Regions from separate parts of the Homo sapiens genome. Here region 2 is linked to region 1. Evidence: fine-mapped expression QTL. Tissue or cell type: whole blood. Region 1 holds a variant in brackets; the other region holds the start of a gene. All regions are shown on one strand. Distances are from middle to middle. Region 1 has its middle 13 kb from the start of TFRC. Region 2 holds the start of LINC00885 (long intergenic non-protein coding RNA 885).

Region 1 (16,380 bases):
GCACTGGCGAATGGTATGAGAAACCAGGGTCCTCTGTTCTGGGGAATCGTATTAGAAAGCAGGGTCCTCTGCACTGGCGAATGGTATGAGAAACCAGGGTCCTCTCTACTGGGGAATGGTATTAGAAAGCAGGGTCCTCTGTACTGGGGAATGGTATTAGAAAGCAGGGTCCTCTGTTCTGGGGAATGGTATTAGAAAGCAGTGTCCTCTCTACTGGGGAATGGTATGAGAAACCAGGGTCCTCTGTTCTGGGGAATGGTATGAGAAACCAGGGTCCTCTGCTCTGGGGAATGGTATTAGAAACCGAGATCTGGACACTGGGTGTGTTCTCATTGCTACCTGGATATTGTTTCTGGGGCCTCTAAGTGGACAGAGCTGGGAAATATACATGTAAATACTAGTAGCTTTTTGTTGGATTCATTAGGATTCTCTCTATATAAAATCATATCATTTATAAGCAGAGATAGTTTCAATTCTTCCTTTCCAATCTGAATACCTTTTGTTTCTTTTTCTTTTATTTTTTTCTGAGATGGAGTTTCATTCGTGTTGCCCAGGCTGCAGTGCAATGGCACGATCTCAGCTCACTGCAGCCTCTGCCTCCTGGGTTCAAGGGATTCTCCTGCCTCAGCCTCCTTGGTAGCTGGAATTAGAGGCACCCACCACCACGACCCCCTAATTTTTTGCATTTTTAGTAGAGACAGGGTATCACTTTGTTGGCCAGGCTGGTCTCGAACTCCTGACTTGTTGATCCACCCGCCTCGGCCTCCCAAAGTGCTGGGATTACAGGCATGAGCCACCGCACCCAGCCTGTTTGTTTCTTTTTCTTGTCTAATTGCTTTGGCTAGAACCTCCTTCACAGTGTTGAACAGGTGAGAGTGGACATCTTTGTTTTGGTAGGGAGAAAGTCTTTCACTTTGTTAGCTGTAGGTTTTTTTGTATGTGCCCTTTATTGGATTGAGGTAGCTCCTTTTAGTTTGTTGAGTGTTTTTGTTGTTTTAGTGTTAATTTTTGTATTAGAGGCAGTGTCTTGCTACATTGTCTAGGCTGGACTTGAACTCATAGGCTCAAGTGCTCCTCCTGCCTCGGCCTTGAAAAGTGCTGGGATTATAGGTGTGAGCCACTGTCAGTATGAATTCAATCTCTTTACTTGCTGTAGGTCTATAGGTCTATTTAGATATTCTCCTTCTTCTTCTGTCTGTTTCAGAAATTTGTGTCTTTCAAGGAATGTGCCCATTTTATTTTATATAAGTTATCTAATTTGTTGGCATATGGTTATTCATGGTATTCTTTTATAATCTATTTTTATTTATTTATTTTTTGAGACAGGATCTCACTTTGTCACCCAGGCTGCAGTGCAGGGCACCGTCAGGGTTCACTGCAGCCTCAACCTCCAGGGCTCAAGCCATCCTCTTGCCTCTGCCTCCCTGAGTAGCTGGGACTACAGGCCTGTGCCACCACACCTGCCTAATTTTTGTATTTTTTGTAGAGATGGGGTTTTGTCATGTTGTCCAGGCTGATCTCAGATCTCCTGGACAACAGATCTCCTGGGCTCAAGCAATCTGCCTGCCTCAGCCTCCCAAAGTGCTGGGACTACAGGCATGAGCTACTGTACCTGGCCACCTTTTATTTATTTTTTTTTCTGTAAGGTATATAGTGATGTCCTCTTTAATTGCTGATTTTCATATATTGAACTTTTTTTCTTTTTTTGAGAGAGAGTCTTGCTCTGTCGCTAGGCTGGAGTGGAGTGGCACGATCTCAGCTCACTGCAACCTCCACCTCCTGGGTTCAAGTGATTGTCCTGGCTCAGCCTCCCGAGTAGCTGGGACTACAGGTGCCAACCACCACGTCCAGCTAATTTTTTTTCTATTTTTAGTAGAGATGGGTTTTCACCATGTTGGCCAGGATGGTCTCGATGTCCTAACCTCGTGATCCGCCTGCCTTGGCCTCCCAAAGTGCTGGGATTACAGGCGTGAGCCACCCTCCTGGCCACTTTTTCTCTTTTTAAAATGGTCAGTTTAGCAAAAGATTTGTCAGTTTTTTAAAAAATCGAGACAGGGTGTCACTCTGCCACTCAGGCTGGAGTGCAGTGGCTTGATCATTGGTCACTCCTCGGCTCAAGCAATCCTTCTTCAGCCTCCCAAGTAGCTAGGACTACAGGTTTCCACTATGCCTAATTTTTAAAAATTTTCGGCCGGGCGCGGTGGCTCACGCCTGTAATCCCAGCACTTTGGGAGGCCGAGGTGGGCGGATCACGAGGTCAGGAGATCAAGACCATCCTGGCTAACATGGTGAAACTCCATCTCTACTAAAAAACACACAAAAAATTAGCCGGGCGCGGTGGCGGGTGCCTGTAGTCCCAGCTACTCAGGAGGCTGAGGCAGGAGAATGGCGGGAACCCGGGAGGCAGAGGTTGCAGTGAGCCGAGATCGCGCCACTGCACTCCAGCCTGGGCACTCCAGCCTGGGCGACAGAGTGAGACTCCATCTCAAACAAACAAACAAACAAAAAAATTCATGTAGAGACTTGGGGGTCAGGAGTCTTGCTCTGTTGCCCAGGCTGGTGTCTAATTCCTGGCCTCAAGTGATCCTCCCACCCCAGCCTCCCAAAGTGCTGGGATTACAGGCGTGAGCGCCAGACTGTTTTGTCAGTTTTGTTGGTCTTTTCAAAAAGACAACTTCAGTTTTCTTGACTTTCTCTATACTTGTTGTGTTTTCTTTTTCAGACTTTTTTTTTTTTTTTTAGAGAGGGTCTCACTCTGTCACCGAGGATGGAGTGCAGTGGTGCGATCATAGCTCACTGCAGCCTTGACCTTCCGGGCTCAGGTGATCCTCCTACCTCAGCCTCCTCGGGAGCTGGGATTACAGGCACCTGCCACCACACCTGGCTAATTTTTGTATTTTTTGTAGACACAGGGTTTTGTCAAGTTACCCAAGCTGGTCTCGAACTAATAGGCTCAAGCAATCCTCCTGCCTTGGTCTCCCAAAGTGCTGGGAATACAGGCATAAACCACCATGTCTGGCCGACTTGCTTTGTAGTTTTTATATGTGTGTACTAACTGGTGCACACATATAAATATATATACATTAACTATCATGTATGTAACACACATACATGATTCTTGTATAATACATACACACACATAAACACATACATGATTATTAGCATATATATTTATATGTGTGTATATATATACACACACACAGTTGTTAATGTATGTATATTTATATACACATTAATATAAGCAAGAGAGAATTGTGTGTGTGTGTGTGTGTGTGTGTGTGTGTGTGTAGACAACGGTGAGCTACCTGGCTCCCTGGCTTGCCATCCATTCAATCCCAGCACAATGTAGAGTGGTTTCACAGTTGTTAACCCATATCCCCATGGGAAACAATTTTGCTGTTAGAGTTCAGTGCTTATGTACAGTTCCTTTTATTTTTAGTCTTATAGTCTTCACTTATTTCCAAAGTCACTTAGACCAGCGCTTCCCTTCCATCCCCTTCAATACCCAGCACTTCCCTTCCTTCTCTTTCAATATCCAGAACTTCCCTTCCATCCCCTTCAACACCCAGCACTTCCCTTCCATCCCCTTCAACGCCCAGCACTTCCCTTCCATCCCCTTCAACGCCCAGCACTTCCCTTCCATCCCCTTCAACGCCCAGCACTTCCCTTCCATCCCCTTCAACGCCCAGCACGTCCCTTCCACCCCCAACGCCCAGCACTTCCCTTCCACCCCCTTCAACGCCCAGCACTTCCCTTCCATCCCCTTCAACGCCCAACACTTCCCTTCCCTCCCCTTCAACGCCCAGCACTTCCCTTCCCTCCCCTTCAACGCCCAGCACTTCCCTTCCCTCCCCTTCAACGCCCAGCACTTCCCTTCCATCCCCTTCAACGCTCAGCAATTCCCTTCCATCCCCTTCAATGCCCAGCACTTCCTTTCCATCCCCTTCAATGCCCAGCACTTCCCTTCCATCCCCTTCAATGCCCAGCACTTCCCTTCCCTCCCCTTCAATACCCAGTACTTCCCTTCCCTCCCCTTCAATGCCCAGCACTTCCTTTCCCTCCCCTTCAACGCCCAGTACTTCCCTTCCATCCCCTTCAACGCCCAGCAATTCCCTTCCATCCCCTTCAATGCCCAGCACTTCCCTTCCCTCCCCTTCAATACCCAGCACTTCCCTTCCCTCCCCTTCAATACCCAGCACTTCCCTTCCCTCCCCTTCAATACCCAGCACTTCCCTTCCATCCTCTTCAATACCCAGCACTTCCCTTCCATCCCCTTCAATGCCCAGCACTTCCTTTCCCTCCCCTTCAATACCCAGCATTTCCCTTCCTTTCCCTCCCCTTCAATACCCAGCACTTCCCTTCCCTCCCCTTCAATACCCAGCACTTCCCTTCCCTCCCCTTCAATACCCAGCACTTCCCTTCCCTCCCCTTCAATGCCCAGCACTTCCCTTCCCTCCCCTTCAACACCCAGCACTTCCCTTCCATCCCCTTCAACGCCCAGCACTTCCCTTCCCTCCCCTTCAACGCCCAGCACTTCCCTTCCCTCCCCTTCAACGCCCAGCACTTCCCTTCCCTCACCTTCAATACCCAGCACTTCCCTTCCCTCCCCTTCAACACCCAGCACTTCCCTTCCCTCCCCTTCAACACCCAGCACTTCCCTTCCCTCCCCTTCAACACCCAGCACTTCCCTTCCCTCCCCTTCAACGCCCAGCACTTCCCTTCCCTCCCCTTCAACGCCCAGCACTTCCCTTCCATCCCCTTCAACGCCCAGCACTTCCCTTCCATCCCCTTCAATGCCCAGCACTTCCCTTCCATCCCCTTCAACACCCAGCACTTCCCTTCCTTCCCCTTGGATGTTAGGTCATGTTTGTAGCATGGTGAGGTTCTTTATAACAGTTTGCATTCCATCCTGGGAACCCTCCCACTCCCGCTTTAACATTTGCATATATTAAGGTTGAAATTTGTGCTGTAGAGAAATTTGTGCTCTATGGGTTTTTGTTTGTTTGTTTTGTTTTGTTTTAGTGACAGGGTTTTGCTCTGTCACGGAGGCTGGAGTGCTGTGGGATGATCATAGCTCATGAACTCCTGGATTCAAGGGATCCTCCTGCTTCACCTTCCTGAGTAGCTGGGACTACAGGCGCGTGCCGCTCAGCCAGCTAAAGTTTTTTTTTTTTTTTTTTTTTTTTTTTTTGAGATGATGTCTCACTGTGTCGCCCAGGCTGGAGTGCAGAAGTGCCATCTTGGCTCACTGCAACTTCTGCCTCCTGGGTTCAAGTGATTCTCCTGCCTCAGCCTACTGAGTAGCTGGGATTACAGGTACCCACCACCATGCCCAGCTATTTTTTGTATTTTCAGTAGAGACGGGGTTTCACCATGTTGGCCAGGCTGGTCTCAAACTCCTGACCTCAAGTGATCCGCTGCCTTGGCCTCGCAAAGTGCTGGGATTACAGGCGTGAGCCACCACACCCAGCCAGTTCTATGGGTTTTGAAAAATGCAGTCTCATGTACCATACAGAAGAGTTTCGCTGCCCTAAAATATCATATATGGTTTACCTATTCAGCCTATACTTCATTCTCCAAGCCTCTGGCAACCACTGATGTATTTTAGGTCTCTATAATTTCACCTTTTCCAGAATGTCATATAAATAGAATCATTATAGTATACAGTCTTTTAAGACTGGTTTCTGGCTGGGCATGATGATTCACGCCTGAAACCCCAGCACTTTGGGAGGCCAAGGTGGGTGGATCACTGGAGCCCAGGAGTTTGAGACCAGCCCTAGCAACATAGAAAGATCCTGTCTCTACAAAAATTACAAAACAACTAGCCAGGGGTGGGGACGTGCTCTTGTAGTTCCAGCTGCAAGCTGAGGTAGGATGGCTGGAGCCTGGGATGTAGAGGCTGCGGTGAGCCATGGCCACTCCACTGCACTCCAGCCTGGGTGACAGAGTGAGACCCTATCTCAAAAAAAGAGAAAAGAACAAAAAGACTTATCAGGTAAAATGGCCCAGAATCTAAATTTATGGCCCTCTACTAATCTTGCTGTTTCTTGCTCTAATGGATTTATGGCCATGAGAAACTGCAGCGAAGTGAAGGTGTGCCTGGAAGGGAGAGATGGACTCTGATTAATTGTATCAGTCTCCTGGCAATAGCTAACCTTATATACATAAGCATTAAAACCAAATCCAAGGACATCCTGTTTTGGAACATTAAAGTGCTGTTGTCACAGAAAGGAAGGCAGTCCTTCCTCTCTAAATTTATAATGTCAATCATTCCTTTGAGAGTTTTCGCTGGCCCTATATATTTTGCACCTGTTCCCAATAATCCAGATGGTACTGTGGGGGCCAAAGTCCTTGGCTCCCTGAAGTTTCACTAAAAAATCAATTCACAGCTTGGCGCGGTGGCTCATCTCTGTAATCCCAGCACTTTGGGAGGCCGAGGCGGGTGGATCACTCGAAGTCAGGAGTTTGAGACCAGCCTGACCAAAACGGTGAAACCCCATCTCTACTAAAATTACAAAAATTAGTTGGGCGTGGTGGTGCACGCCTGTAATCCCAGCTACTCCAGAGGCTGAGGCAGGAGAATCACTTGAACCCAGGAGGCAGAGGTTGCAGTGAGCCACGATCATGCCACTGCACTCCAGCCTGGGCAACAAGAGCAAAACTCCGTCTCAAAAAAAAGGAGAAAAGAAAACTCCTGTTCTTCTCTAGCCCAGGCCCAGTCTGCAGGAGAGGTTTCAGAGCAGGGTTCGTGTGGACTGGCTGTTGAGCTGCGTCTTCCCAGGGGTTCAGGGGAGTCCACGACAGCTGTAGACTGTTCTTCCGGCTCACAGTTTCACAAACTCAGTTTCGTCAGTTCACCAGAGTCATCAGGTAATTCGCTACCCAAGGGCACAAAATCCCGATTCATGAGGCCTATTTATTAATTCGTGTGGGGTAAGAGAACTGCTGTGCAGGCCAAGTCTTCCTGCTGAGGTCTGGTGTCTTCTCAGGAGGGAAAATTGTTTCAAGATCAGGATTAGTGGATTGTTTGGCAGTTGTGCAGTGGCTGCAAAGTAGCTGAATGGTCTTAGGGACCGTTGCTGAAGCTGGGACAGCCCCAGGGATCGCCCTGGTCCACTGAAAAGCTTAGAATGCAAAAAATAGAATGCATTACAGCTACCTAAAAATAGCTGCCAAGCAGAAACCGCTTTCATGCCAGCTGGCCACACAGGGTGCCCTTTCTGTGGGGAGTGTTGTAGAAACAGCTAATAAAAACTTCTTCCTCTAAAGTCTACTCAAGGGTTGGTCTAAGACCAGCAGCAGCCTGGGTATCAGTTAGGAGCTTGTTAGAAACACCGTCTTGGACCCCCACCAGACCTTCTGAATCAGAATCTGCATTTTAACACGTCCCCTCCATGGGACTTATCTGCACATTAAAGTTTCTTTAAAAAAATATTTTCAAGGGCTGGGTATGGTGGCTCACACCTGTAATCCCAGCACTTTGGGAGGTTGAGGTAGGTGGATCACTTGAGGTAAGGAGTTAGAGATCAGCCTGGCCAACATGGTGAAACCCCTTCTCTACAAAAAATACAAAAATTAGCCGGGCGTGGTGGTGGGTGCCTGTAGTCCCAGCTACTCAGGAGGCTGAGGCAGGAGAATCACTGGAACCCGGGAGGTGGAGGTTGCAGTGAGCTGAGATTGCGCCACTGCACTCCAGCCTGGGCAACAAGAGTGAAACTTCGTCTCTTTCTCTCTCAAAAATAAATAAATAAATAATAAATGAAAATAAATAATATATGTATATGAATATATATATTTTTAAGAAACAAGGTCTCACTCTGTAGTCAAGGCTTAGCTGCAGTGGCACAATCATAGCTCAGAGTAGCCTTGGACTCCTGGGCTCAAGCAATCCTCCTGCCTTGGCCTCCAAAGTGCTGGGATTATAGATGTGACACTGCATGGAGCTCACATGAATGTTTAAGAAGCACTAGGCTAGGCTGGGTGTGGTGGCTCATGCCTGTAATCCTAGCACTTTGGGAGGCTGAGGTGATCATGAGGTCAGAAGTTCGAGACCAGCCTGTCCAACATGGTGAAACCCCGTCTCTACTAAAAATGCAAAAATTAGCCGGGTGTGGAGGCATGTGCCTGTAATCCCAGCTACTCGGGAGGCTGGGGCAGGAGAATTGCGTGAACCCAGGAGGCGGAGGTTGCACTGAGCAGAGATCACGCCACTGCACTCCAGCCTGGGAGACAGGGCAAGACTCCGTCTCAAAAAAAAAAAAAAAAAAAGAAGCGCTAGGCTAGAGTCTAGCCTCTATCTGGATCTCAAAACCAATCTAACCTTTATTCATCTTACTACCTGCAGGAAAACCTGCCTGTACCTTAATAAAGCCAAGGCTAGAGCCAGGCATGCTGGCTCTCACCTGTAATCCCAGCACTTTGGGAGGCCGAGGAGGCTGGAAGATCCTTTGAGCTTAGGAGTTCAAGAATAGCCTGGGCAATATAGTGAGACTTTGTCTCTACAAAAAAAAATTAAAAATTAGCCCAGCGTGGTGGCTCACGCTTGTAATCCCAGCACTTTGGGAGGCCAAGGCTGGAGGATCCCTTGATCTCAGGGGTTCAAAAATAGCCGGGGCAACACAGTGAGACTCCATCTCTACAAAAAAAAATTAAAATTTGACAGGTGTGATGGCACATGCCTGTAGTTCCAGCTACTTGGGAGGCTGAGGCAGGAGGATCGCTTGAGGTTACAGTGAGCTATGGTCATGTCACTGCATTCTGGCCTGTACAGCAGAGCTGTCTCAAAAAATACATAAATAAAATAAAGTCAAGGCTGGATTTCAGACCTTGACACAGAAGTGGTCTGCCTGGAATAGGGGGTTGGAGGGGACCTGGCTAGCAGGATTGGCTCACGGGCCCAGAACTGTCTCTCCCTTTGGAATTCTCTGCTCTCATTGCCTACTTGGGCTCGACCTTATCAGAGAAGCCTGCCCCCCTTCGTAGCATGTTGCTCAGGCTGGCCTCTGACTCCTGGGCTCAAATGATCCTCCTGCCTCAGCACCTCCAAGTAGCTGAGAGTATAAACATGTGCCAGGGTGCCCAGCTATGTTACTTCTGGGAAGCATTCTGGAAGATAGTTGTACCAGGCACACTGTACCTTATAACCTTGTCTTTATATATGGGGATCTTTTGCTTTGTGCTCCTGGCATCAAATTCAGCTATAAAGTTGACTCAAACCTTCCAAGGATGGGTATTGTTGTAAGGTCCTGGTCAGAGCCTGGCAGTACGTCAGCCTACCCTGAGTGCAGAGCTTCAACTACCCGCCTGCTACAACAGTGTTTTCATATTTCCATACCTGAGATATAGTAAAAAGTGGTTTTAATACAGAAACCTGGCCAGGCATGGTGGCTCACACCTGTAATCCCAGTACTTTGGGAGGCTAAGGAGGGAGGATTGCTTGAGCCCAGGAGTTTGAGACCAGCCTGGACAACATGGTGAGATCCCCATTGCTATATCTCTTAACATTTATTTAAAAAAAAAAAAAAAAAACAGAAATCACAGAGATCTGAAGTTAGGGTCTTGCTATTTAAAAGCTGTGCCACTTTCAGCCAATCCTTTTATATTCTTCACACTTCTACTTATTCATCTATAAAATAGGTATGATACCTGTTTCACAGAATTGTTGGGGGCCAAAGTAAGATGATACAAATATAAGTTCCCAGCTCAGTACCTGGACACCATAGGTGCTCAGCGAACGTTACCGCACTCTGACACCTGGGCACCCCAGCCCTGGGATACGGGTCTTCCTACCACTTAGGGGATTGTGTGAGATGAACCAAGGGAAGCCACTCCAGCTCTCACAAATGTAACCACTGTACAGCTGCCTCCTTGACCACATTTCCAT[G/C]TATAAGAAATACAAGTTTTGGCAGGAACATTTTCCAAACCAAAGGAAAATTTGTCTACTGTGTATATTAAAGCTGAAGAAACCAAAAAGTTTCTGCCTATTTGGTATTTTTCCTGAATACTAGATTTGCTGACTTGGGATTTAGATGTAGACGTCTGTTTGCAAATGTTTTCTTCACACATTTGTTCATTTTTCCTATTTACATCATCAGTCATCCCCACTTCACAATGTTCTTTTCAAAGGCCTCTTTCTTAGTCATTTTTTTTAGGCAATGTTTGGCCATCTGGCGCACAGTTTATCAGAAGTATTATTGCTTAAGGTCCCAGCCATAGAGGAAGGGAAACTCAGACATAAGTGAGAGTTGCAAGCTCAGATGTCAAAAGAAGATACAAATAAGAGGCGGGGTACAGTGGCTGATGCTTGCAGTCCCAGCACTTTGGGAGGCCAGGGTGGGAGGATAGCCTGAGGCCAGGAGTTCAAGACCAGCCTGGTCGACATAGCAAGGTCCTGTCTCTACAAAAAAAGAAAGAAAGATAAAGATGCAAATAAGAAAAACCAAACTGACTAATTTATATTTTGGAAACAAAGTTTTTTTTTTTTTGAAGTATTTATTTATTTATTTTTGAGACAGGCTCTTACTCTGTTCCCAGTGTAGTGTAGTGGCATGGTTACGGTTCACTGCAGCCTCAAACTCTTGGGCTCAAGGGATCCTCCCGCCTCGGCCTCCCAAGTAGCTGGGACTTCAGGAGTGTACCACCATGCCTGGCATTTTTTTTTTTTTTTTGGTATTTTTTTGTAGAGACAGGGTTTTGCCATGCGGCCCAGAAACAATGTTTAATATATATACATTCATACGATAATTTTATCAATTCAATAACTCTCCTTATCAAAGGTAGGTACGCATTCTGGAAATTTAAGCAAATGAGCTAGCTTGCAGGGACAATATGAATGCACTGCATTTCTGTCAAATGGTACCCAGATTTCTGGAGCATCAGTTGTACTACAAACTCTTATTTTTAGAAGTATCTGGGATTCTAGCCAGGCGCGGTGGCTCACGCCTATAATCCCAGCACTTTGGGAGGCCGAGGCGGGTGGATCAGGTCAGGAGTTCGAGACCAGCCTGACCAACATGGTGAAACCTCGTCTTTACTAAAAATACAAAAATTAGCCGGGTGTGGTCGCACTTGCCTGTAATCTCAGCTACTCAGGAGGCTGAGGCAGGAGAATCGCTTGAACCCTGGTGTCAGAGGTTGCACTGAGCCGACATCACACCACTGCACTCCAGCCTCAGTGACACAGAGAGACTCCGTCTCAAAAAAAAAAAAATTAGCTGGGCGTGGTGGCGCATGGCTGTAATCCCAGCTACTTGGGAGGCTGAGGCAGGAGAATTGCTTGAACTCAGGAGGTGGAGGTTGCAGTGAGCTGAGATGGCGCTATTGCACCATCCAGGGCAAGAAGAGTGAAACTCCGTCTCAAAAAAAAAAAAAAAAAGGAAAGAAAAGAAAGAAATATCTGGGATTCCCCACATAGGAATATGAATCCAAATTTTGAAATTAACTTAAATCTGAAGTGAAAAAAAATAGATCCCTCAGATACTAGATCTTCTCAAATGGTTCCACCTAGATGGTCCCTGTACCTCTTGAATAGAAATTCTTCCCTGGGGAGGTGTCTGCAGAGCTGTGCGGGTGGTGCAGTCAGTCTGTGTCATGCCTGGGTTTGTAAGGAGGCAGTGTAGTGGAATTTTTTAGGGCCAGGTTAGAAGCTAGATGACCTAGGCTTGAATTCTTGCTGTCACTATTTATTAGCCATGTGACATGGGGCAAGTTACTTTACTTCTGTATTAAGCTAGTTTCCACACCTGAAAATGGGATTACCTCTTTATTTTTAAGAGTTTTTAATTTTTTTTAAGAATTTATTTTTAAGAATTGTTCTGAGGATTGCATGAGCTCATATGTTTAAAGGCGCTAGAATGGAGCACCTGGTAGATGTACAATAAACCTTGGCTATTTTTATTCAGCTCCAAGGCAAGGATGTTCCTAGCCAAATAGATCAGGCTCTTTTCCACCTCCAGCTGAATTAGACTGGTGATAAGCGGGGACAGATCCTCTTCATACGCTATAGTAGACTGTAACAGTACCTGGATATCACATTCTCCATGATAAAAGGAGCATAGAGGGTACTAGTACACGGCAAAACTAGATTTGGGGCCCAGGTCTTTCTGCTCCAAAGATTGATCTATTCCCTTGAACCCTGCTGAAAACTCAACAGAAGTTAACAATAGACAGTGGCTATTAAGGTAGTGAATATGGTGGCAGACAGATGGCCACCAAAAGCTGCAGCATCTACAACAGGGGAATGATGTTCCTGCCCCCTCTGGATTGGCCAAACTATACTTCCAAAAATGACCAGTGGGGCCTGGCGCGGTGGCTCATGCCTGTAATCCTAGCACTTTGGGAGGCCAAGGCGGGCAGGTCACCTGAGGTCAAGAGTTCGAGACCAGCAAACTTCCGTCTGTACTAACACAAAAATTAGCCCGGCGTGGTAGAAGGCGCCTGTAATCCCAGCTACTCGGGAGGCTGAGTTAGGAGAATCGCTTGAACCTGGGAGGCGGAGGTTGCAGTGAGCGGAGATCATGCCACTGCACTCCAGCCTGGGCGACAAAAGCGAAACTCCATCTCAAAACAAAAAAATAAAAAAAAAAACACACAAAAAAAACCACAAAGTGACCAGTGGGTGGGGAGACATGGAATCACGCCCTGTGGTAACCATTAGAAGAGATTTGGATATTTAGCTGGAGAAGACAGCTGTGAACAGGAGAGCAGTCTTCAAACAATAATTAATTTATAGGATGGGCGTGTTGGCTCACACCTGTAATCCCAACACTTTGGGAGGCTGAGGTAGGAGGACTGCTTGATCCCAGGAGTTTGAGACCAGCCTGAGCAACATAGCAAGACCCCATATCTATTTAAAAAAAATATATATATATATAAAATAATTAATATATAGAAGAGGGAGAGAGAATTTAGTTTAGTAGATCAAACTTTTGTTTTTCTTTTGAGACAGAGTCTCACGCTGTCGCCCAGGCTGGAGTGCAGTGGTGCGATCTCAGCTCACTGCAACATCCGCCTCCTGGGTTCAAGCAATTCTCCTGCCTCAGCCTCCTGAGTAGCTGGGATTACAGGTGTGCGCCACCATGCCTGGCTAATGTTTGTAGTTTTAGTAAAGATGGGGTTTCACCCTGTTGGCCAGGTTGGTCTTGAATGACCTCAGGTTATCTGCCCACCTTGGCCTCCCACAGTGCTGATATTATAGACGTGAGCCACCGCACCTGGCCCAGATAAAAACTTTCTGACAGTTCAAACTGCCCAGGTCTTTCTGCTTTGGGAAATTATAGATTTGCTCCCATTGGAGAGGTAAAGGAGACACTAGATAACCACCTGATGAGGTGAAGTAGAGGAATTTTGTTGAATTAATTCAACATACATTTTTTGAGCACCTACTATAGGTCAGAGACAGTACATTAGTTATATAGTTCCTTCTGAACTTGAAACTCTATTATGCAGTGAGTTCTATTTTGCCTCCGAATGGGACTAAATAGAACTTCATATCCTACTCAAAACTTCAACTTAGACCACTGTACTGGTTGGCATAAATGTCCTTGTAATCAATTTAAAAATTGTCTTTGGCTAGGCATGGTGGCTCACGCCTGTAATCCCAACACTTTGGAAGGCCAAGGTGGGTGCATCACTTGAGGTCAGGAGTTCGAGTCCAGCCTGGCCAACATGGTGAAACCCCATCTCTACTAAAAATACAAAAATTAGCTGGGTATGGTGGTGGGCACCTGTAATCTCAGCTACTCAGGAAGCTGAGGCAGGAAAATCACTTGAACCCGGAAGGTGGAGATTGCAGTGAGCTGAGATCGTGCCACTGCACTCCAGCCTGGGTGACAGAGCACAACCCCATCTCAAAAGAAAACAAACAAACAAACAAAAAAAAAACAAAATTAGTTATCTTTCACTGTCCTAAGTAACCTTTCCATTTGCTATAAAATGGGAGCAAACTCCTCCATATTAATCTGAATCTTGCCCCTATTCCATGTTCTCGTGGGTGACCTTCCGTTTGGCAATGGAGAAAGAAAAAATAATTGAGTCAGCAGGATAAGGACAGGAAACTGAGGGTGGAGAAAAAGAAATGCAAAATAAAATGGAAAATAGTATCAACCTCAAATCTATGAGTTGACAGTCCACCTGCCTTTTTTCTAGGTTGCATCCTCTTCCAAAGTGGCAGAGCTCCACATTTTTATTTTATGACTCTGGTCCTAAAGTGATTGCCCGAGGCTTAGGATTCCAAGGAAAATAAAATGGATCCGGCATGTTAAATAGGAGCTAGGGTCAGAGCTAAAGGTAGGTTAGAGTGATTTCTGTAGAAGCTGCTGTGAAGACCAGCCGTGTGACAGGCAGGGTGCTGCCCTCACTGACCGGAGTGTGTGCAGCTATTTGACAGCATTTGAAAAGACTTCAGGCCGGGCATGGTGGCTCAAGCCTGTAATCCTAGCACCTTGGGAGGCCGAGGCAGAAGGATCCCTTGAGCCCAGGAGTTTGAGACCAGCCTGGGCAACATAGGGAGACCCTCGTTCTACATATTTTATTTTAAGAAATTTAAAAAAGTAAAAATAGTGAAAACACTGGGTGTGGTGTCTCACGCCTGTAATCCCAGCACTTTGGGAGGCTGAGGCGGGTGGATCAATGGGGTCAGGAGTTCGAGACCAGCCCGGCCAACATGGTGAAACCCCATCTCTAATAAAAATACAAAAATTATCCAGGCGTGGTGGTGCGCCTGTAGTCCCAGCTACTCAGGAGGCTGAGGCAGGAGAATCACTTGAACCCAGGTGGCAGAGGTTGTGGTGAGCCGAGATTGCATCACTGCACTCCAGCCTGGGTGACAGAGTGAGACTCCATCTCAAAAAAAAAAAAAAGATTGAAAAGACTTTCTCTCTGCCTTCTAACTCAGCCTCCCAACTCATTAAAAACAAACAAACAAGCAAACAAACAAAAAAACCGTAACCAATATTTGCTGAAATGTAGGGCGGTAGAAAGTTGAAACAGCGACAAGCAGAAAGAACAGGGAGAAACCTTGGGAATTGAAATTTAACTTTGAGCATCATTTATCCTGTTCACTAAAAAGTCATTTATCCTGTTCACTAAAAAGTCTTGTGCTCTGAGAGAGGAAATGGCCTAGGACTATGCTTTTCAAAAATAGGTTACGGCCCATTGGGAAATCAATTGAATGGGTTAAAAATTAGCATTTTTACTATTAAATAGAATAGAAAATTCTGGAGGGCTTTCCACACCTCAAGGGTATTATTTCATGAAACTTTTACTTTGGGTTTCAAGGAAATATACACATATATACACACACATCCACGTGGGTATACTGAAGGAAATATACACGTGTATACACACGCATACACACACGCATACACATGGGTGTACTGAGTTGTGAAGTAAGATGGACATTTGTCCATGAAATGCAGTAAAAAACGTTTGAGAAATGCTGAACTAAGAGACTTCATCTGCTGTTTGGGCCACAGGTAGGACCCCAGAAAGAGCAAGTGGCAACTTTGTAACTCTATTACAAAGTTGGCAAATTAATGGTATTTTTGTGGGATTTTTTTTTTTGAGACAGTCTCACTCTGTTGCCCACGCTGGGTGCAGTAATGCAATCCCAGCTCACTACAGCCTCAGCCTCCCAAGCTCAAGCCATTCTCTCACCTCAGCCTCCAGATGCCCAGCTAATTTTTTGTACTATTGGTAGAGATGGGGTTTCGCCATGTTGTCCAGGCTGGTCTCGAACTCCTGCACTCAGGCCATCCATCTGCCTCGGCCTCCCAAAGTACTGCGGATTACAGACATGAGCCACGGTGACTGGCATTATATATTTATTATTATTATTATTGTTATTATTATTATTTGAGAAAGGGTCTTGCTCTGTTGCCCAGGCTGGGTGCAGCAATGCAATCTTGGCTCACTACAGCCTCAGCGTCCCAAGCTCAAGCTGTTCTCTCACCTCAGCCTCCAGATGCCCAGCTAATTTTTTGTATTTTTGGTAGAGATGGGGTTTTGCCATGTTGTCCAGGCTGGTCTCAAATGCCCGCACTCAGGCCATCCACCTGCCTCGGCCTCCCAAAGTACTGGGATTACAGACATGAGCCACAGTGACTGGCATTATATATTTATTCTTATTATTCTTATTATTTGACACAGGGTCTTGCTCTGTTGCCCAGGCTGGAGTGCAGTGGTGCAATCTCGGCTCACTACAGCCTCAGTGACTGGCATTATATATTTATTATTATTATTATTTGAGACAGGGTCTTGCTCTGTTGCCCAGGCTGGGTGCAGTGATGTAATCTCGGCTCACTACAGCCACAGTGACTGGCATTATATATTTATTATTATTATTATTATTATTATTATTAGTTGAGACAGGGTCTTGCTCTG
Region 2 (16,380 bases), 46 kb before region 1:
GGAGAATGGTTCCTAACTAGCGGCTTCTGTGCTGATGAAGGCAAACAGCAGTCTCAGTCTTTTTTTTTTTTTTTTTTTTTGAGACAGAGTCTTACTCTGTTGCCCAGGCTAGAGTGCAGTGGCGCACTCTCAGCTAACTGCAACCTTCACTCCCTGGGTTCAAACAAGCACATCTGTCTAATTTGTGTATTTTTAGTATAGATGGGGTTTCGCCATGTTGGCCAGGCTGGTCTTGAACTCCTGACCTCAAGTGATTCGCCTGCCTCCGCCCCCCGAAGTGCTGGGATTACAGGTGTGAGTCATCGTGCCTGGCCTAGTCTCAGTCTTCAGACACAGGGGAGACCTGTTGGTTTTGCAGCGTCTTCTCTCTTTCTAATAAAAGCATCCATATTTTTCTTTGTGAGACCACTCTGCCCCCACTTTGTCCGTGGTTCCAGCGGTCGGCTTAGGACTGGGATTTAGCCAATCCAAGTGCTCTATTCCCTTGGTCACGGCAATCTGTTCAAGGGTGGGTATGTGACCCAAGCCAGATCAATGAGTGTCTGTATTAGTCTGTTCTCACACTGGTGTAAAAAGATACCTGAGACTGGCTGAGTGCGGTGGCTCACGCCTGTAATCCCAGCACTTTGGGAGGCTGAGGCAGGCGGATCACCTGAGGTCAGGAGTTCGAGACCATCCTGGCCAACATGGTGAGACCCTGTCTCTATTAAAAATACAGAATTAGCCAGGCGTGGTGGTGTGTGACTGTGGTCCCAGCTACTTGGGAGGCCGAGGCAGGAGAATCGCTTGAATCCAGGAGGCGGAGGTTGCAGTGAGCTGAGATCACATCACTGCACTCCAGCCTGGGAGACAGAGTGAGACTCCGTCTAAAAACAAAAAACAAAAAACAAAACAAAAAAAACCCTGAGACGGTGTAATTTATAAAGAAAAGAAGAAATCATTTTAATTGGCCAGATGTGGTGGCTCACGCCTGTAATCCCAACACTTTGGGAGGCTGGGGCAGGCAGATCACCTGAGGTTGGGAGTTCGAGACCAGCCTGACCAACATGGTGAAACCTCGTCTGTACTCTACTAAAAATTCAAAAATTAGCCAGGCGTGTTGGTGCATGCCTGTAATCCCAACCATTGCACTATTGCACTCCAGCCTGGGCAACAAGAGCTCCGTTGTTTTTTTGAAACTCCGTTTCAAAAAAAAAAAAAAGAAGAAGTTTAATTGGCTCACAGTTCTGCAGGCTGCATAGGAAGCATGACGCTGGCCTCTTCCCGGCTTTTGGGGAGGCCTCAGGAAACTTCCAATCATGGCAGAAGGCGAAGCGGGAGCAGGCACTTCACACGGCAGGAGCAGAAGCAAGAGAGAGAGCGAGGGGGTGGGGCCACACACTTTCAAACGGCCAGATCTCTCGAGAACTCACTATGGAGAACAGCACCGAGAGGATGGTGCCAAACCATTCATGAGAAATCCACCCCATGATCCAACCACCTCCCACCAGGCCCCACCTCCAACACTGAGGATTAGGACTCAACTGGAGATTTGGGTGGGGACCCAGAGCCAAACCATGTCAGTGTCTATCTGAGGCATTTGGTTGCAACTACCAAGTAGAGACACTCTTTTTCTGTTGGGAGCACTAAGCCAGCAGTATAGAATCCTGCAACCGCTGGAGGCCAGTGTGCTAAGGTCTGAGAGGAGCCTGTTTGAGAGCAAAGTCAACACAGTGAATGGAGCCAAGAAATGGAGACAGCAAGATCTCTGTTGGCACGCTGTGAACGCCTGGATCCAGCCATGCCTGAATTTGATCTGTGAACCTCTTGGACATGACACAATATGATCCCCACTGATTCTTTCCCCATCTGAGTTCAGGCTTTGTTGTTTGCAATCACATCCACCTGTAAGTATAGCAAAAGCTGTTTGATGAAAACGTCATTCCATAGGAATTCTAATGGTTCACGCTTTTGGAGCACCTTCCATATGTAGACATTGTGGTAGATTTTTTTTTTTTTTTGAGACAGAGTCTCGCTCTGTCACCCAGGCTGGAGTGCAGTGGTGCGATCTCGGCTCACTTCAACCTCCACCTCCTGGGTTCGAGCAATTCCTCTGCCTCAGCCTCCCGAGTAGCTGGGATTACAGGTGCACACCACCGTGCCTGGCTAATTTTTCTATCTTTAGTAGAGACGGGGTTTCTCCATGTTGGTCAGGCTGGTCTCAAACTCCTGACCTCAGGTGATCTGCCCGCCTCAGCCTCCCGAAGTGTTGGGATTACAGGCGTGAGCCACTGTGCCCAGCCGTGGTAGATTTGTATTTTAATTTGTAATAGAGTTATACTTGAACATAGTTTTATGAGTTTACTTGGTGTGAAAACCCCCATCCTTTGCAACTCAGACTCCTTTTTCTACTCCTTACAGGTGCTGGAACTCAGAAACCAATACCCCAGAATATGGTGCTTTGACATATGGGACCGAAGAAGCCTTGAGGTCTCTCTGACCTTTCCCCAAAGAAGTTGAAGTTTTTTAATTGGTCAAGTTCCAGACCCACAAGGAGCAATTATTTGTAAAGCCAGGAATGTAACCAAACTTGAACAGAACTTTCCACAAAATAGTATGTAAACTGATCTCTGTTCCTAGATCCATTTACTTTCCCTAGTAATCCTTTATCCCCCTCTTTTCCTGCCTCCCATAAACTGTGCTGCCAGGATGCTGTATGAGCTTCTGAACCCCACTGGGGCGCAGGCACCCTGACTCTCCCTATGTGCATGTAAATTAGTTTTATGCCTTTTTTCTGTTAATTAGTTGGCCTCATGTCAATGATTTTCAACCACTGTCAATTTTTTCAGATGATTCTTTTTTTTTTTTTTCAGACAGGTCTCTCTCTGTCGCCCAGGCTGGAGTGCAGTGGTGTGATCTTAGCTCACTGCAGCCTCGACCTCCAGGGGCTCAGGTATCCTCCTACCTCAGCCTTCTGAGTAGCTGGGACCGCGGGCATGCACCACCACACCTGGCTAATTTTTAAAATTATTTGTAGAGACGGGGTCTTCCTATGTTGCCCAGGCTGGTCTCGAACTCCTGGACTCCAGTGGTCAGCCGGCCTCAACCTCCCGAAGTGCTGGGATTACAGGTGTGAGCCACTGTGCCCAGCCTGAGATAAATCTATTGAGTTTTCACTGTGAACAATGAGGATGTAGCTCATTTTTGTTCTCCCTGTCCCCACCACACAGAAACTCTCTGCCCTTCTCTTCCTCCTGATTGAGTTACGTTGTGATTTTGTTTAGATCCACATTCACTGCTTGTTTTTTGTTTTTTTTTTTTGAGACGGAGTCTGGCTCTGTCGCCCAGGCTGGAGTGCGGTGGTGTGATCTCGGCTCACTGCCAGCTCCGCCTCCCGGGTTCATGCCATTCTCCTGCCTCAGCCCCCTGAGTAGCTGGGACTACAGGGGCACGCCACAGCGCCCGGGTAATTTTTGTATTATTAGTAGATGAGGGGCTTCACCGTGTTGTTCAGGCTGGTGCCCTTGGTCATCCACAGGTGTGGGCCAAGCTAAGTTTGGGAGAAATGTAGTTTATAGTTTAAATGATAATAGCCCTTTCCAAAACTAAATTGCCTTTGTAAAACTAATGAAAGGCCACCGGGTTAGGGGGATGACAGGGGCATGAATTCCACGAAGATGTGGGTGCCGTGAGATGATTCCCAGCCACTATTCCAAAGGCCACTGGGTTAAGAGGAGGAAAGGGGCATGAATTCCGCGAATATGTGGGTGCTGTGAGATGATTCCCATGAGAAGTCACAAGATTTGCAACTTCCCCAATGACTCCTGTAAATAACATCACTACTGTAAGACCTAAGATTGGCCTTTTGAGATCTCTTTTCAGGGTTTCAGGTTACTGATGACCGGAAGGCCCCACCCAAACCAGCAGCTCCTCTGTGGCCACTACCCAGAGGCTGCCTCAGAGCACAAGGGCCAATTTCCACACCCCCGTGATTGCCCCCCCAGCTGATCAGCAGCACACGTCCCATAGCTCCCTGCCCACCAAACTCTCCTTAAGAGACCTTCGCCTCTGAATTTTGGGGCAGGCTGATTTGAGTAATAATAAAACTCTGGTCTCCCATTTCGCTGGCTCTACGTGTATTAAACTCTTTCTCTATTGCAATTCCCCTGTTGTAATAAATCAGCTCTAACTGGGCATTGGGCAAGAAGAGCACATGGGCAGTTACAGATTCTCCTGGTTTGAAGTGAATCAATCAGAGCCAGGCGTGGTGGTGTGCGCCTGTCAGTCAGAGCCAGGCGTGGTGGTGTGTGCCTGTCAATCAGAGCCAGCTGTGGTGGTGTGTGCCTGTCAATCAGAGCCAGGCGTGGTGGTGTGCGCCTGTCAGTCAGAGCCAGGCGTGGTGGTGTGCGCCTGTCAGTCAGAGCCAGGCGTGGTGGTGTGCGCCTGTCAGTCAGAGCCAGGCGTGGTGGTGTGCGCCTGTCAGTCAGAGCCAGGCGTGGTGGTGTGTGCCTGTCAATCAGAGCCAGCTGTGGTGGTGTGTGCCTGTCAATCAGAGCCAGGCGTGGTGGTGTGCGCCTGTCAATCAGAGCCAGGTGTGGTGGTGTGTGCCTGTCAATCAGAGCCAGGTGTGGTGGTGTGTGCCTGTCAATCAGAGCCAGGTGTGGTGGTGTGCGTCTGTCAATCAGAGCCAGGCGTGGTGGTGTGCGCCTGGATTCCTGGCTACTAGGGAGGCTAAGGTGGGCAATCACTTGAGCCCGGGAGTTTGAGGCTGCAGTGAGCTATGATTATGCCACTGTGCTCCAGCCTGGGCAATAGAATGAAAAATAAATTTAAAACTGTCTCTGAAAAATAAATTAAAAAGTGAGTCAATTAGCCCAGCCCACATTCAAGGGGACGGTTTTACACAGGAAATACCAAGAGGCAGGGATCACTGAGCGTCATCTTAGAGGCTGCCTCCCACAGCAGGCGAATGAAGTATTAGAACACCCTCGGTAGCGAGTGCTGAGAGGGCCAGACACGGTGGCTCATGCCTGTCGTCCCAGCACTTTGGGAGGCCGAGGCAGGAGGATCACCTGAGGCTAGGAGTTCACAACCAGCCTGGGTAACATAGTGAGATCCTGTCTCCCCGTCGAAATTTTTTTGATTAAAAAAAAAAAAAGCGCTGAGAGAGGAAATCCCAGGCTGTTGCAGGCATATGAGAGAAAAACACCAGCCTCTGCCCGAGGACGCATGAGAGAAAAACACCAGCCTCTGCCCGAGGACGCATGAGAGAAAAACACCAGCCTCTGCCCGAGGAGACCAATGAGGGTTTCCCAGAGGAAGCAGCTCTGGGTTGAGACTTAACAGATGAGAAGATATCCCAGGGGGCCAGGGGGTATAAGAGCATCCCAGGGAAAGGGAAAGCAAAAGACGGAAGTGTGGGTTCAGGGGGCAGCAGCACGGGCAGAGCCTGGGGCAGAGGGTGACAGGAAGGTGGGGGAGAGCTAGCTCCGGGAGGACTCACCTGCTGTCCTCAGGTGTTGGTGCTTTATCTTGGAGGCACTGGGAAGCCGTGGCCAGGGTTAAGGGGGTGAGATGCCAGGACTGTGCTTTAGTGCTCTCTGCAGTTACTGGCTGGGTAGAGGAGACCGAGGAGCAGAGGTGGGAGGCCGGAGACCAGGGAGGAGGCTGTGGCAGGCATCCAGGTCAATGCTGGGGGGCTGGTCTGGGCAGGAGCAGAGGGAGAGGGAAAGAGGAGATAATTGGGAGGTCGATGTGAACAATGGGGCTTCTACAGTGCCGGCCCAGAGGGATGAAGTAGTTCGTGGGGTAGGCGAAGGGAGGCAGGGAGAGGGAGGGCCAACTGTGTGAATGGAGGGAGCGGCCCAGGGCAGCTCAGCGAGGCCCGTTGGCTGCACAGGCAGGTGGTGAGCGGGCGGGGTCTTGCTCCTTGCGGGGTGCGAAAGTTGGCAGGGTTGGGTGGTAACCTTGGGAACCTGAGAAGAAAGGTCAGGGTGGAGATGTCAGCCGCCATTTTGGCCCCAGGAGGTCCATCCCTATGCCCGGTTGATTGCTCTGCTTTGTGAACACAACCATGGCTCAGCCGCAGACCCAGGATTAGAACTCTACAAAAAGGGCTTCTTGGCTTGTTGTGGTGGCTCAGGCCTGTAATCCCAACACTTTGGGAGGCCAAGGCGGGTGGATCACCTGAGGTCAAGAGTTTGAGACCAGCCTATCCAACATGGTGAAACCCCGTCTCTACTAAAAATACAACAATTAGCCGGGTGTGGTGGCGGGTGTCTGTAATCCCAGCTACTCCGGAGGCTGATGCAAGAGAATTTCTTGAACCTGGGAGGTGGGGGTTGCAGTGAGCCGATATCACGCCACAGCACTCCAGCCTGGGTGACAGAGCAAGACTCCGTCTCAAAAAAAAAAAAAAAAAAAAAAAAAAAAAAAAAAAAGAGGCTTCTTGAACACTCCCCTCGAACCTACCCCGGCGGCCTCCAGAGCTCCGCCCATCCTCGCCCTTCAAAGTTAGTGGAAGCCCTCAAGGCCTTGAACTAACTGCTCGCTGCTGACCTGCCGGCCTCGTTGCCCTCCTTCTCTCTGTGGCTGTGGGCAAGTGACTCACTTCTTAGTCTTCTCTCTTGGAAAACCGGCGGCTGGACCAGCTGCTCCCCGTGGTCCCTGCCAGCGCTGGCTCGCCGGGATTCCATCTCCCCACCCTCTCTGGGTTCTCCACGCTCTGGGCTGTCATTGCAGCGTGGATCGTAATGCACGTAATGCAGTGTGACATGCATTCCAGCACCCTGATGGCCATGGGCTCTCCCTCGGCTCAGGCCCGCCCTGGGGAGCTGCGGAGGCTGTGTTGAGCTCAGCTCCTCATCTTAATTCTGCAAACCTGTTTTGAGGTCTGGTCTGGTTCCCAGCTGAGCACTCAGGTACTGTGGGTGGGGTCTCTTGGCCTGGGGTCTGCCCGGCGCACCATGAATCATCAGCCAGACAGGGTCTTTCAGAAGCGGGACTGTCCATCCCTGTTCTCCAGGCATGATCATGTCTGTTCATCAGAGATCATCTTTACGGAGGTAGAGAAGAGCTTCCGTCTCCGGGGTCACGTGTTGTACTTTGCACATCCTCCGTGGTGAGGTTCTTTTCTAGATCTAGCCCAAATCTTCAAGAAGGCTTAAAACAAAGCTGCATTTTAAGGGCTTCTGGGTGGAGGAATCAGATTAGATCCATTCTGCTCAGCTTTCTCTCACCAGAAGTGGGGGCTCCGCCCTCTGAGTGGGAAGGGACCCATTCCTTTCACTTCCCCGCTCCCTGGCTAGGTCAGCCCACACCTGGCTTGGGCCAGAGCTGCAGTTGCTGTTGGCACCCAAATGGTCTGAGGCTGTTAGGTAACAGGTCTTGGCCAGACATTCTGGTTCCGCAGGTACAGCCTACAAGTTAAAAATTGTTCTAAAAATGCAGGGCAAGCTGTCTAAACACACACAGGCCTGGGGAGGGGGGAGGTTGTGGGACAGAGGCCATAGTCAGTGGAGGGATGTGTTTTCCACAGGGACTCTGGGCTCAGAGCCCTGACTCCAAACCAAGCATCAAACTCAGGGAAGAGTGGCCCAGACCTGCTGCAGGGACGAGGGGCCCAGACCCGCTGCAGGGACGAGGGGCCCAGACCCGCTGCAGGGACGAGGGGCCCAGACCTGCTGCAGGGACGAGGGGCCCAGACCCGCTGCCCAGAGATAGGATTTGCAGCCCAACCCCCTCTTAGCTTCCCTCATTTCCCTCCCTTCCCTCCCTCCCTCTCTCTCTCTCTTTTCTTTCCTTCCTTCCTTCTTTCCTCTCTCTCTCTCTTTCTCTCTCTCTCTCTTTCGAAGGACTCTCACTCTGTCACCCAGGCTGGAGTACAGTGGCATGATCTCGGCTCACTGCAAACTCTGCCTCCCAGGGTCAAGTGAATCTCCTGCCTCACTCTCCCGAGTAGCTGGGATAACAGGCATGTACCACCACGCCCAGCTAATTTTTTTGTATTGTTAGTAGAAACAGGGTTTCACCATGTTGGCTAGGCTGGTCTTGAACTCATGACCTTAAATGATCTGCCCACCTTGGCCTCCCAAAGTGCTGGGATTACGGGCGTGAGCCACCACGCGGCTAGTCTTGCTCTTTGTTATTTTGATGTCTTTCCTCCAGTTCCATGCTTTTAGGCATCTCTAACCTTCCCCTTCTTCTTTCCTCTTTCCCCTCTTCTTTCGTTTCCTCTTTTCTCTCCCTTGCCCCTACTCCTCTCTACCCACTAGGTAAGGGGATGTGTTTTTCTTTTTCCCCTCCTTAAACTCAGCCCCCACCTTAAGCCTCTGGAAATCAGCCTGGTAGTGGGAGGCAGCCTCGGGCCCCTCCATCTGTGACCTTGGGGAATTCCTGTCACCTCTCTGGGCCTCTGTCAAATGGGGACAATAATACCCATTTGATCCTCTGCCTCACAGAATGGCTGGGAACATCAAAAGAGGTCAGTTGGTTCATTTGTTCCATATTTATTTAAGCACGTGCAATTTAGCCAGGCACTGTGGTGGGTTCTGGGGTCCATAGCAGGAGTGAAAGACATGTGCAGACTGTCCCTAAATCCGCTCATCCGAAAACCACAGAGGGCTTCGAAAAAGACAAACTCCTTCCCTCCCCCAGATCATCCGGGTGGGACTCTGCAGAGTCGGGCAAAGCAGGTGGGGGCGGCGTCTGTGTTTTGTTGGGTTTTCCTGTGACTTGGAGTCACACTCTGTCACCGAGGCTGGAGTGCAGTGCTGCAACCTCTGTCTGCCTTCTGGGCTCAAGTGATCCTCCCACCTCAGCCTCCCAAGTAGCTGAGACCACCACAAGCACCACTGCACCTAGCTAATTTTGTTGTATTTTTAGTAGAGACGGGGCCTCGCCGTGTTGCCCAGGCTGATCTTGAACTCCTGGGCTTAAGGGATCCTCCCTGCCTCGGCCTCCCAAAGTGCTGGGATTGTAGGCATGAGCCACGGCGGCCAGCCTGATGTCTGAGTGTTTTTGTTTTGTTTTTTTTTTTTTGAGATGGAGTTTTGCTCTTGTTGCCCAGGCTGGAGTGCAGTGGTGTGATCTCGGTTCACTGCAACCTCTGCCTCCCGGGTTCAAGCGATTCCCCTGCCTCAGTCTCCCAAGTAGCTGGGATTACAGACGCATGACATGATGCCAGGCTAGTTTTTTGTATTTTTAGTAGAAATGGGGTTTCACCATGTTGGCCAGGCTGGTCTCGAACCCCTAACCTCAGGTGATCCACCCATCTTGGCCTCCCAAAGTGCTGGGATTATAGGCGTGAGCCACCGTGCCTGGTGGATGTCTGTTTTTATAGCTCTGCAAGTGAGCCAGGCTCCCGGGCGTGGAAACAGTGTGTGCCTGAGTGAAGGAGGACAGGCTGGCAGGGCGACCGAGTCGGCCCAGGGAACCATTAGACGGGCAGAGGTGGGGGGCGGGGGAGTAAGTGGGAGAAGCCGGGGACAGGAAGCAGAGGGGTTTTCCTCCTGCCCCTTGCTGGGTCGGCCCACGCACATCTGTGTCTAGGCTGGCTAGAGATTGAAGGCCTGTGATGGATTCTCTTAAAGAGTGATAAAAGTACCACAAGGGAAACAGAATAGCTCTAACCATTTCTTCATGATAGGGGCTTTCTCCCCTCAGGTATATTTTATAGGATATTTTCCTCAAAGATTAGCCTTTCCTTATTTGTTTTGTCTAGAGGGCGATCCTAAAAGTGGGCCTAGGTTTTCCATGTCGTTTTTGGTGTGTGTAAATTTTTAAAAACAGGTTTTGCTCATTTCTTTAAATATTGGTGTGATATTTCATGTTTGTAAAGCAGTCACTAAGTTTGACTGCCTGGAAATTTTAATGTATGCTCGTTAAGAAATGATGGTCGGGCGCCGTGGCTCAGGACTGTAAACCCAGCACTTTGGGAGGCCGAGGTAGGTGGATCACTTGACGTCAGGAGTTCGAGACCAGCCTGGCAAACATGGTGAAACCCCGTCTCTACTAAAAATACAAAAATTAGCCGGGGATGGTGGTGGGCACCTGTAATCCCAGCTACTTGGGAGGCTGAGGCGGGAGAATCACTTGAACCCAGGAGGCAGAGGTTGCAGTGAGCTGAGATCGCTCTACTGTATTCCAGCCTGGGGGGCAGGGTGAGACTCTGTCTCAAAAAAAAAGAAAAAAGAAAAAAGAAATGAGCAGTAACAACAACAAAAATCCTTAATGCCTCCAACCTTGATGGTTTAGAAAGGTCTTTTAAAGTTTTTATTGGCTGGGCATGGTGGCTCATGACTACAGTCTGAGGTGGGAGGCTGGGGTGGGAGGATCGCTTGAGCCTCGGAGGTTGAGGCTGCAGTGAGTCGTGATGGCACCACTGCACTCCTGCCTGGGCAACAGAGTGACACCCTGTCTTTACAGAAAATAACAATTAGCCGAATATTGCGATGCGTGCTTACAATCCCAGCTATTCAGGAGGCTGAGGTGGGAGGATCTCTTGAGCCTGTGAGGTTGAGGCTGCAGTGAGCCGAGATCATGCCATTGTACTCCAGCCTGGGTGACAGAGTGAGAGCCTGTCTCAGAAAAAAACAAAAAACCGAAGAAAAATGTTAACAGTGAGTTTGTTTTTCATGTGATAATGATTTGAATACTCAGGCACTGTTGATAGCAAGGGCGGGAAGAAAACAGTAAAATTCCTTCCTGAGGGAGTTCACATTCCAGTTGGGGAGAGGTAAGAAGCCAAGATGACCAGATACCTAAGAACGCGTTTAGCGTGGCAGGTCGTGATGAAATGCTAAGGAGGAAAAACAAAGCAGGAGTGAGGAGTATGAAAGTCAGCCAAGGAGATGGGATTGGAATTTTAGGCAAGCTAAGCCTGGGAGTCCTCCTGAGAAGATAACTTTTAAACGTAAGTCACAGAAAACTTCAAATGTACGTAAAAGTAGAGAGAACAATGAAATGAATACTCATATATCCATCATCTAGTATCAACAAATACTGCCAATTTGGTTTTATCTAATTTTCCCCAATCATTTATTTATTTTTGTGTGTGTGCTGGAGTTTTTAAAAGCAAAGCCAAGACGTCACATGAATTTTCCTGTAAATATTCCAGTGAGCATGTAAACTGATAAGGGATTTTGAAAACATACATCTACCCTGCTATTACGCCCTCAACAAAACTAACAAAAATTCCTCAGTATCATCCAACAACCAGTCCATATCTTCATTTCCCAATAGGGTCAAATTATCTTTTCACAGCTGGTTTTGAAACAGGATAATAACACCAGGCACAGCGGCTCATGCCAGAGGATCGTTGAGCCCAGGAGCTCAAGGCTGCTGGGAACCACACTCACAACACTCCAGCTTGGGGGACGGTGCCAGACCCTGTCTCAAAAACAGACAGACAAACAGGATAATAAAGGTTAATTTTAAGTGGTGGCATATATTTTATGACTTTTTCTCTATTTTTCAGATTTTCTACCATAAACATGTATTGCTTTTATAACTTTTTAAAAATATAATTTTGAAAAAGAAAAAGATTTGGAGGAAGAGCTTGCAGCAAATAATGACAAAAGACAAGGTTCATAAATAGCTAATAAGACTGATAAGCTAGGCCAGGTATGGTAGCTCAGACCTGTAATCCCAGCACTTTGGGAGGCTGAAGTGGGAGGATCAACTTGAGCTCAGGAGTTTGAGGCCAGACTGGGCAACATAATGAGACCTCGTCTCTACTAAACATTTTTTTTTTTTTTTGGGGACGGAGTTTTGCTCTTGTTGCCCAGGCTGGAGTGCAGTGGTGTGATCTTGGCTCACTACAACCTCTGCCTCCCGGGTTCAAGCAATTCTCCTGCCTCAGCCTCCCAAGTAGCTGGGACTACAGGCATGTGCCACCATGCTCAGCTAATTTTTGTATTTTTAGTAGAAACAGGTTTTCACCATGTTGGCCAGGATGGTCTCGATCTCCTGACCTTATGATCTGCCCGCCTCAGCCTCCCAAAGTGCTGGGATTACAGGCGTGAGCCACCATGCCTGGCCACATTTTTTTTTTAAATTACCTAGGCCTGGTGACACATGCCTGTAGTCCTAGTTACCCAGAAGGCTAAGGTAGGAGGATTACTTGAGCCTGAGAGATCAAGGCTGCGGTGAGCTGAGATCGCACCGTAGCACTCCATCCTGGCAACAGAACCAGACCCTGTCTCAAACAAAAACAAAAACTGATAATGAGCAAAAAATATGAACTAAATTTTATTCGAGAGGAAGTTCAACAGTGAATAACACCACACTGTACCAGATGAAACTGACAAGATGCAACCATATCAACAGCACAAAAGCCCGTGCCGAGTTGGTTGGAAGGTACTCACATGCTGCTAGAAAAGTGTAAATTATTCCACTCTGGGGAGCAATGTAGCCATAAAGAATTTGGGGCCGGGTGCGGTGGCTCACGCCTATAATCCCAGCACTTTGGGAGGCCAACACAGGTGGATCGCTTGAGGCCAGGAGTTCGAGACCAGCCTGACCAACATGGTGAAACCGTTTATCTGGTAAAAATACAAAAATTAGCTGGGTGTGAAGGCACATGCCTGTGGTCCCAGCTACTCAGGAGGCTGAAGCATGAGAATCGCTTGAACCCAGGAGGTGGAGGTTGCAGTGAGCCGAGATCACTCCACTGCACATCAGCCTGGGCAATACACTGAGACTCCGTCTCAAAAATAAGTAAGTAAATAAATTAAAATTATGTATAAATATGTTGTCCTTCAACAGCAAAAAGAAGAAAATATCCAGCAAGAGAATAATGAAGAAATAACTGATGGCGCATCAGCTTGGTGGCATATCAGGTTGCCATTAAAAATTCTACTTATGGGCCAGGCGCAGTGGCTCACGCCTGTCATCCAGCACTTTGGAAAGCCGAGGCAGGTGGATCACCTGAGGCCAGGAGTCTGAGACCAGCCTGGCCAATATGGCGAAACCCTGTCTGTACTAAAAATACAAAAATTAGATGGGCATGGGGTGGTGCACGCCTGTAGTTCCAGCTACTGGGAGGCTGAGGCAGGAGAATCCCTTGAACCCGGGAGGCGGAGGTGGCAGTGAGCCGAGATTGCGCCATTGCCCTCCAGCCTGGGCGACGAGAGCAACACTCTGTCCTGAAGGGGGAAAAAAAAAATTCTACTTATGAAGACTACAGGATTGTGAATGAACATTTATGATAAAAATATTACACAAGCAAAAAATAAATAATGACTCTGACTACAGCGAAATAAAATATGTACATGCCTGGACAAGCTGGAAGAACTAGACAGGAAGAAAACAACCTTGTTGGGCTCGAATGCTGAGATCATAGGTGGTTCGTTTTTCCTTTGCAGTTTTTTTTAATGCCTTTATATTGTTTATACAATAATTCTTTTGAAGAAGTCAGGATGTGGGTGAAGGGTTGGAGTAAGGTGGAAAATGTACCAGCATGCCTCGTCTCCTCCTTCTTGGAAGTCTGTGCCTCCAGCCTCCTGCTTGGGGTTGTCACTGCCCCACAGCCTGGGAGACTGGAAGGGAGCCGGTGAGGTCAACTCCATTTCTGTGGCCACTGGCAGGCCCTGGTGCCTGAGGCACTGCAGAAACAGACATGCTGGCTGCTCCCTTTTTCTCAGCCCACCTGCCTGCTGAGTTCTTTACATATTTTATCTCGATTTAATCCTTACAGAACTCAATGAGGTAGGTGCCCAATGAGAGTCGGGCAAGTTACCCAACTCTCAAAGCTGGAGAGCTGGGTGAGTTGCCTGAGGTCACACAGTGGGTAGAGAACACAGCCAAGTTCAAGGCTCTGCCCTTCACCTCTGTTTCCCACTGCTGTGCTGAGCTCACCAGGGAGCTATGCCGCCCAGCTGGCTGTGCAGTGGGGCAAGCTCTTCAACCTCTCCAGTCTCCTATGCACTCTTCGGTGATAAGTCGAGGGGTTCTGGGGAGGAATCTGCCTCCCTGGACCTGGACTCAGAGCTCCTCATGGGTCTGAACAGTGCAGAGGATGGTTGGACCATCCCCTCCACGGTCTCACTGTCCATCCATGCATTCAATTCACATCTGCAAGCTCTGTCTATGTACCAGGCACTATGCGACCTCTGAGATATGTGTACTAAGACACAGACCCCATCAGACAAAGGGAGGGACACACATCAACAGAGAAGTATCATGAAATATCCTTTCTTTTTATTTGAGACAGTCTCACTGTTACCCAGGTTGGAGTGCAGTGGTGTGATCACAGCTCACTGCAGCCTCAACCTCCTGGGCTCAGGGGGTCCTCCCACCTCAGCCTCAGGAGTAGCTGGGAGTACAGGTGCACACTACCACGCCCGGCTAATTTTTTTTTTTTTTTAGATGGGGTCTCACTCTTTGCCCAGGCTGGAGTGCAGTGGCACGATCTCGGCTCACTGCAACCTCCGACTCCTGGATTCAAGCGATTTTCCCGCCTCAGCCTCCCGAGTAGCTGGGATTACAGGCACCCACCACCACACCCGACTAATGTTTGTATTTTTAGTAGAGACGGGGTTTCACCATGTTGGCCAGGCTGGTCTCAAACTCCTGAGTTCAGGTGATTCACCCACCTTGGCCTCACAAAGTGCTGGGATTACAGGCATGAGCCACTGTGCCCGGCCTAATTTTTGTATCTTTTGTACAGACAAGGTTTCTCCATGTTGCCCAGGCTCGTCTGGAACTCCTGGGCTCAAGTGATCCTCCCACCTCAGCCTCCCAAAGTGCTGGGATTACAGGTGTGGGCCACCGTGCTCAGCAAATGAAATTCTTGATTCCAATGTCACCTGCTCAGAGAGGATGAGCTGGGCCATGTATTTAGAGTATCTCTGCACAGCCACTCACTGTCCTATCTCCCCGGTGCTTCGCATACATTTTTCACCGTTTGAAATTCTCTTCGTTACGAGTAAGTTCCATAAGGATGGGGACCTTGTCTTGCTCGCCTCTATTTCCCAGGGCTTAGTGCTGAGTAAGCCCTTCCTGAGTGTTTCCTGCTTCCTGAGTTATTGGGATGAAGCTGAGCAGAGTAGGGACGCACAGGACTGTTTCAGAAGGAGAAGAGGGCAGAGAAGTCTCTCCTGGGACAGTCTGGGAAAGGGCAGAAAATATACTTCTATTGACAAGAGGCCATGAAAACACTCAAGACCCTTCAAACCCAGAAGAGCAGTGACCAGGGCACTGGGACACAGTCAGAGGATCTGGAGTGAGAGATCTTGGCCGTAGCCCTGACCCCACAGGGAACCCGGAACGAGAGGATCCATGCTGGAGGGGCCTCCGAGCTCATTCCAGCCGACTTTTCACAGCTTCAGCGTCTGGACTTTGCCGGGAACAGACAGTCAGTGGCTCATGGTTTAGGCTTCCCCAGTTATAGACATACTTGGCTGGGGGCGGTGGCTCACGCCTCTAATCCCAACACTTCGGGAGGCCAAGGCAGGAGGATCGCTTGAGCCCAGAAGTTTGAGACCAGCTTGGGCAACATAGTGAGACCCTGACTCTATAAAAACATTAAAAAATGGCCGGGCACAGTGGCTCATGCCTGTAATCCCAGCACTTTGGGAGGCCGAGGCAGGTGGATCTCCTGAGGTCAGGAGTTTGAGACCAGCCTGACCAATATGGTAAAACCCTGCCTCTACTAAAAATATAAAAATTAGCTGGGCGTGGGGGCGCACGCCTGTAATCCCAACTACTCCGGAGGCTGAGGCAGGAGAATCCATGAACCCAGGAGGTGGAGGTTGCAGTGAGCTGAGGTCGGCGCCATTGCACTCCAGCCTGGGCGACAAGAGCAAAAGTCTGTCTCAATAAATAAATAAATAAATAATAAAAATAAATAAATAAATAGATAAAAATGGGCCAGGCACTGTGGCTCATGCCCGTAATCCCAGCACTCTGAGAGGCTGAGGTGGGTGGATCCCTTGAGCCCAGGAGTTCGAGACCAACCTTGGCAACACAGTGAGACCTTGTCTCTAAAAAAATAAAATACAGTAAAATAATTTTAAAGAGAGATGAACCACTCTCCCCCAGGCCTCTAAGCATGTGCCAGTCCTCCCAGGCACTGCAGTGTGTGTCCCTCTCAAGGACGGAGAGGTGGCAGAGCCTCCTCACTGAAGACTCATTTAAAAAAAAATTAGAGAGACATGGTCTGGGCCGGGCACGGGGGCTCACGCCTGTAATCCCAGCACTTTGGGAGGCCGAGGCAGGCAGATCACTTGAGGTCAAAAGTTCAAGACCATCCTGGCCGACATGGTGAAACCCCATCTCTACTAAAAATACAAAAATCAGCCAGATGTGGTGATGTGCACCTGTAATCCCAGCTACTCGGGAGGCTGAAGCAGGAGAATCACTTGATCCTGGTAGATGGAGGTTGCAGTGGGCCGAGATTGT

Evidence for each region. PIP is the estimated chance that this variant, and not a neighbour inherited with it, causes the effect.
Region 2: LINC00885 starts here. The variant in region 1 is the best candidate, but not a certain one, in a credible set for the expression of LINC00885 in whole blood (TOPMed, PIP 0.74).

The regions. Positions count from the first base shown.
Region 1 is chr3:196,087,307-196,103,686 of GRCh38, reverse strand. No RefSeq gene overlaps it. Among named protein-coding and RNA genes, the nearest start is that of TFRC, 13 kb to the right of the region's middle. RefSeq lists an enhancer at 6,728-6,777 and a silencer at 11,058-11,246. The variant G/C (reference allele first, on the strand shown) is at 9,884.
Region 2 is chr3:196,133,480-196,149,859 of GRCh38, reverse strand. It overlaps LINC00885 (long intergenic non-protein coding RNA 885), which reads right to left and starts at 7,224. Exons shown (of 3, transcript NR_034088.1): 1 at 6,860-7,224; 2 at 5,483-5,954. RefSeq lists enhancers at 9,261-9,320, 9,371-9,420, 13,310-14,110 and a silencer at 15,280-15,439.